Linked DNA regions of Homo sapiens: region 1 is linked to region 2. Evidence: fine-mapped expression QTL. Tissue or cell type: whole blood. Region 2 holds a variant in brackets; the other region holds the start of a gene. All regions are shown on one strand. Distances are from middle to middle.

Evidence for each region. PIP is the estimated chance that this variant, and not a neighbour inherited with it, causes the effect.
Region 1: ARHGAP8 starts here. The variant in region 2 is fine-mapped to the expression of ARHGAP8 in whole blood (TOPMed, PIP 0.90).

What each region holds. Positions count from the first base shown.
Region 1 is chr22:44,751,395-44,754,290 of GRCh38, forward strand. It overlaps ARHGAP8 (Rho GTPase activating protein 8), which reads left to right and starts at 1,181. Exons shown (of 12, transcript NM_181335.3): 1 at 1,181-1,233. The region is part of intron 4 of PRR5-ARHGAP8 (PRR5-ARHGAP8 readthrough); the gene reads left to right.
Region 2 is chr22:44,726,678-44,729,573 of GRCh38, forward strand. All of the region lies in intron 4 of PRR5 (proline rich 5), which reads left to right. All of the region lies in intron 4 of PRR5-ARHGAP8 (PRR5-ARHGAP8 readthrough), which reads left to right. Among named protein-coding and RNA genes, the nearest start is that of ARHGAP8, 24 kb to the right of the region's middle. The variant G/C (reference allele first, on the strand shown) is at 1,420.

The DNA of each region.
Region 1 (2,896 bases), 25 kb after region 2:
ACAAAGCAAGACTCTAAAAACAAAAACAAAAAACAAACAAACAAACAAAAAACTATGGCCCCCCAAGCACTGCAGGGGGACCTGGACTGAAGTCCTATACTACTGTTTCTCTGGGCCTGATATATTTTGTTGTATCTAAGCTGCTTTCCTCAGATACAAATCCTTCAACAAACCCTAGGGAAAATTTCCTCTCAAGTCCCTCCAATTCTCCCAGTTCTGCCACGCTTTGTACACCCCTAACGAAAGGGGCCAGGTGCAGTAGCTCAGGCACGTAATCCCAACACTTTGAGAGGCTGAGGAGGGTGGATCACTTGAGCCCAGGAGTTCCAGACCAGCCTGGACAACATGGCAAGACTCCTGTCTCTACAAAAACTACAAAAATTAGCTGGGTATGGTGGTGCACACCTGCGGTCCCAGCTACTCGGGAAGCTGAGGCCGGAGGATCGCCTGAATCCAGGAGGTAGAGGCTGCAGTGAACCAAGTTCAAGACACTGCACTCCAGCCTGAACAGAGCGAGACCCCTGTCTCAAAAAAGTAAAATTAAAAATGGGGCCCGGCGCAGTGGCTCACGCCTGTAATTTCAACACTTTGGGAGGTGGAGGCGGGAGGATCGTTTGAGGTTGGGAGTTCGAGACCAGCCTGGCCAACATGGTGAAACCCGGTCTCCACTAAAAATACAAAACTTAGCCGGGCTTGGCGGCGCACGTCTGTAATCCCATCTACTATGAAGGCTGAGGTGGGAGGATCGCTTGAACTCGGGAGGTTGAAGCTGCAGTAAGCCGAGATCGCGCCACTGCACTCCAGCCTGGGCGACAGCGCGAGACTCCGTCTCAAAATAAATAAATAAATACATACATACATAAAGTAAAATAATGAATAAATAAAATAAGAAATGGGGAAATGGATCAGCAAGAAAGTGCCCGCCCCAGGCATGGGTGCCGTGCGGGACGGGGACGCGGCCCAGCCGGGAATCGGGGTGCCCAGGGTGCGATGTGCGAGGGGCTCCTGAGCGCGTGTGCTCCGCCCGACCCCGCCCTGTCCCCCCGACACACAGGTGGACCCAGGGTCAGCTCGTGCACCTGGGAAATGGCTCCCGCCGGGTAGCAGGGGCGGAGGGGCGGGGCTGGGCGGAGGGGCGGGGGGGCGGGGCCTGCCCGGGAGCCACGTCCGGGGAGGGGCCAGGTGAGCGGCAGACCCGGCACGCAGGTGGGGGCCGGCGGGGTCCGTGGCCAGGTAAGGCGGGCGGCGGCGGGAGGGAGCGCGCAGGGAGGAGGCCGTGCTCGGGGTGGGGGGGTGCGCCGCGGGGGCTCCCAGGGCGTGTACGGGGACAAGGGGCCGCTGGCCGGGTAGGGACGCCCAGGCGGGCGCGACGCCACGTGCGGCCGGGGGGAGACCCTCCGGCCGGCGCGCAGCCTCCGGGTCCCCTGTGGGTTCTAGACTCCCTCTCCCTTCACCTCCTTTCTTTCCCGCCCCCCCACACTCCCCTCCTCTGCTTTTTCCCCTGTCCTGTTCCTTCTCACCCCGCACCGCCTTCCCCGCCCTCGCCTCTCTCAGCCTGCGTTTTGGTCTGGTCTGGCCGGACGGTGTCAGCTCAAATGTTCCTTTTTTGCTTCCGTCCTGGGGTCTCAGGTTAGGTCGGGTCAGCGCCTGGGGGAGGCACCTCCCCCGCCCCCACACACCCCAAACCTACAAGGTGGGTGAGGTCATTCCCGTTTCATAGATGAGAAAACGGAGGCCGGGGCAGGTGCTGCGCTGATTCAAACTCAGGGGGTGGGGGGCTGGCCGGTTCAACACACAGCGGTGGAACCCCCCGGGAGTTAAAAGCAGAAACTTTTTTTTTTTTTTTTGACACCGAGTCTTGCTCTGTCCCCAGGCTGGATTGCAGTGTTGCATCTCTGCTCACTGCAACCTCCGCCTCCTGGGTTCAAGCGATTCTTGTGCCTCAGCCTCCCGAGTAGCTGGGATTACAGGGACTGACACCATGCCAGCTAATTTTTTGTATTTTTAGTACAGACAGGGTTTCACCATGTTGTCCAGGCTGGTCTCGACCACCTGACCTCAGGTGATCCGTCTTCCTGGGCCTCCCAAAGTGCTGGGATTACAGTCGTGAGACACCGCGCCCGGCCTAAAAGCCCAAAGTTTAAACCAATCCGCTAGCAGCCTCGGAGGTCGTCAGGAAGGCAGGGAGGCCCTGCCTTTCACTTTCCCTCAATCCTGTGGGGGGTGGGGGGGCTCCTGAGAATCCCTCGGGCTCTGCCACACCCTGACTTGGAAATTTCTCCGCTGCCTTGGGAGGAGTGTGAAGGCCCCGGAGAAGGAACCGCAGAGTCCACCCGGGAAGGAGGGTGGGATTGTTTGGCGGGATGGGGACAGCACCTTGGCCACCGACTTCAGGGTTTTGTGACAGAGGCTGTGTAGATTCCAGAGAGCTCTGTGCCGTCCCTCGCTTGCCTGTGAAATGCAGTGTTGGCATTTGTCCAGCTGAGAACTCAATGCTTAAGACTCAGCCGTTTCAGAAGTCGATGTCCTTTGGTTGGCCTCTCTGTTGGCAGCTTTAGGATCATGTTTGTGGACTCCTCATTCGATTCACTGACTAACCATTCCCCAAACCAACGCCAGAGTTGGGGGTAGGGCGAAGAGGGACATGGGATGTGGGCCTGAGCCCAGCTGATTCTTGTGGACAGCCAGCTGCCTGGTCCCTGCCCTCAGGGGCCCAGAGTCTGGCTTCTGTGTAGAGAGAATCCAAGGGTTTGTGGGAGCTTAGGAAGGGCTTCCTGGAGGAGGTGGCCATTGAGCTGGAAGGTGGATGGGAGGTGGATGGGGAAGAGAATGGCACCTACTGGCTAGGGATACTTCGCTTGTGAGGTACGGGTGGAAAAGTCCATGGAGTGCCTGA
Region 2 (2,896 bases):
CCTGGCTGGCTGCTGGACTGCTGGGCCTCGTGCTGGGGGCCTCTGGGTGCAAGGTGTGGCTCTCTGGTCCGGAGGGCTTGGAAGGAACACGTATAGCCTTAGGGCAGCAGGGCCGAGATCCTTACCCAGAGGGAACCCTGGGAGAGGGTCTGCCCCCCGAACTTGCTGGAGCCCAGGAGGGCTATGAGACATCGGGGAAAAGCCCCCTGCTTCCCCTCCCTGCCCACGGGACTTTCTGGCCCTAGTGAGCTCTGTCCCCGCAGCCTGGGAGAGCCCCTGTCCTGGTCTTTGGGGGTCAGAGGAGAAGTCGGTTAGGGCTGAGGTCACCGATACTCACAGAGGAGGGGACAGGGTGGGGGACTCAGCTGAATTTTCTCTGTCGAGGCTCACAGCCACCCACTGGGACCTTCAGGTTATTGTTCCTGAGTGGGAGAGTACAGTGATGATAAGTGATTTGCCCAAGGCTACAGTGCACATCAGGGGTGGGGGCGGGACTCAAACCCAGGTCTGCCTGACTTTAGGGCACACACCCTTTGCCCTTCTCACGGCCCGGAGGTCCCCGCTGGCCTCACTGTGCAGGTTGGGCTTCCCGTGGCCGAGAGCCTCGGGCAGCAGCAGCAGCGTGCGCATCCTTGCAGGAGCGAGCTGCCCTGGGAGCGGGGTCAGGTGAGGGGGTCCACTCAGTTCCCACGGATGCTGCTTTGCTCGGGCTGTGCTGGGATCGGGCCTGCGCTGTACCCGTGTGTTGAGCACCTGTGCACTAGGCACCGGGTGTGTGCGTCCCTCCGTGCTGGACTGCCCCGAGTGTTTCACATCTACTAACTCATTTGATTTCCACAACCCTGTGAAGAAGCCACCGTTGTTAGCACTGAATGAATGGGGAAAGTGAGGCACGGTGTCCTGCCCAGGCCACACAGCTGCACCGTGGCAAGGCCAGGGTGCCAAGCAGGCCACCGGGTCCCGAACCCATACTCTTCACTCTGCTGCCCCAGGCTCCTCCTCCAGGTCTCCCTCTGACCCTGGGAAAAAGAGCTACTAGCCCACTCCACAGAGAAGGACACAGGCCCGGAGGCCTGGCATGTTCCAGGGGACCTTGGAGCTGCGTGTCATGGTCCTTCCTCACGTCCACTGAACATGTTGGGTGGGGCCAGCCAAGACAGGAACACAAAGAGAGGCCATGAAAACCATCAGACCGTCGGGGAGACATGGGGGTTCTGGGAAGGCTTCCTGGAGGAGGCAACATCTAGACTGGCAGGACAGAGCTGTGAGCATTTGGCACCTGACGAAGATGGCCACCCACGCCCCTCGCTTGATGCGGCACATTCTGGCGGTGCCTGTACCTCCCACCAGATCTGGCCTAGGGGAGCCGGGGCTCTCGGAGAAGGGAGTTTTGTGTGGCTTGAAAGGAGCTCTGCGTGG[G/C]ACAGCCAGGTCTGCCAGGCCTCCCAGCAGGGGTGCCTGCCCAGCAGAAGGGGCAGAGGACAGCCCTGGGAGGCCCAGCATCCTCTTCTGCCTCGCCAGCCCTTCCTGGCCTCCCCAGGTCTCAGGGACAGGCACTGGGCTCTACGCTGGGAGTCTGAGGCCCTGGCCTCCAGTTCCCATGTAGCTGCAGACACAGGGTTTCCTCTCCAGCCTCAGCACCCCTGTCTTAGCAATGTGGGGTTGAACAGGCTCTGTCCACTTGAGTGTTCTCTACATGTCAGGCCCAGGTGACCTCTGGGAGCCCAGAGATGGAGGAGAACCTGGCCCTGCCCTTCAGGGACTCACAGCCCAATTGGGGACACAGACACGGACCCGAGGGTGACAGTTGAGTGTGATTAATGTCATTGTGAAGGAGTGTCCTGGGGAAGAAAGGGTTCATTCCACCTTGGCAGTCAGAGAGGGCTGCATGGAGGCAGTGGCCCTTGAGTAGGGCCTCAAAGTGTGGTCTGTTCAGGGGAACTTGTGGTCCCTTTTGGCCCCATGCAGTGGGGACATAGCCACCTCCACATCCTGATGGGCGGCCTCAGGGGCCTCCCCCTTCCTGCTCCCTACCCCTGCTTGGGTTCCACTGGGAGCTCTTCACTTTGAGCCTGCTCCTTGCAGCTGTCCCTACAGAGCCTCTACCAGAGGTGGGTGATGGCCCCCTGTGGGGAAGCCCCAGGACCTTGCCCCCTGCCCCTTCTCAGCCTCCAGGGAGGCCTTGGACTTCAGCCCCTGGGCAGAGCCGGTCCTGGAAGCGGAGAGCCTGGAGGAGTGGCCTTGAGGTGGAGGGCTGCCTCCCTAGGAAGGGGAGGAAGACTGGACCGCGGCCGGGGTTGTAGTTTGATGGCCTGTGTGTGGCTTAAGGGAATCGGCTCCAGCTGCAGCCAAGCAACTCCTTGGAAGCCAGAAACTTGGGAACTCTGGGCGGGAGCTCCTGGTCCTCTGCTGGGCCCTGGGATCTGCCGTCGCTCATCCACCAGGGAATCCAAACCCGGTATGGGTCACGTGACCCAGCTGTGCTGCCTTACACGCTTGCCTCCATGCCTGTGCCTCGGCCGTCCCCGCGCCAGACACCCTTGACCTGGTCCACCCAGCGCGTGGCTTTTGTCACTGCCCTGCGCTCCTCACTGTTCCTGAGTCTCCCGACGGGCTGAAACAGGGTTGTTGGTTTGCAGGGCCTGCACAGGGCCCTCAGCACTCGGATAAAGAAAGGAAAGACGGACACCAGCCTGCGCCCACAGCGAGAACCCCAGAGTGGGAGCCAGCACGGAGCCAAGGCTACTGCGGGGCCGCTCGCCTGCATCAGCCCCTGCTACTGCCAGGCTGGAGCCAAGGTACGGCGCGCACACACCCGGCCCCGTCCTGCCGGCAGCAAACGCCCAGTGCTGTTTCATCTCAGCTTTCGACCTGCCCACGTGGGGACGTGTATCACGCC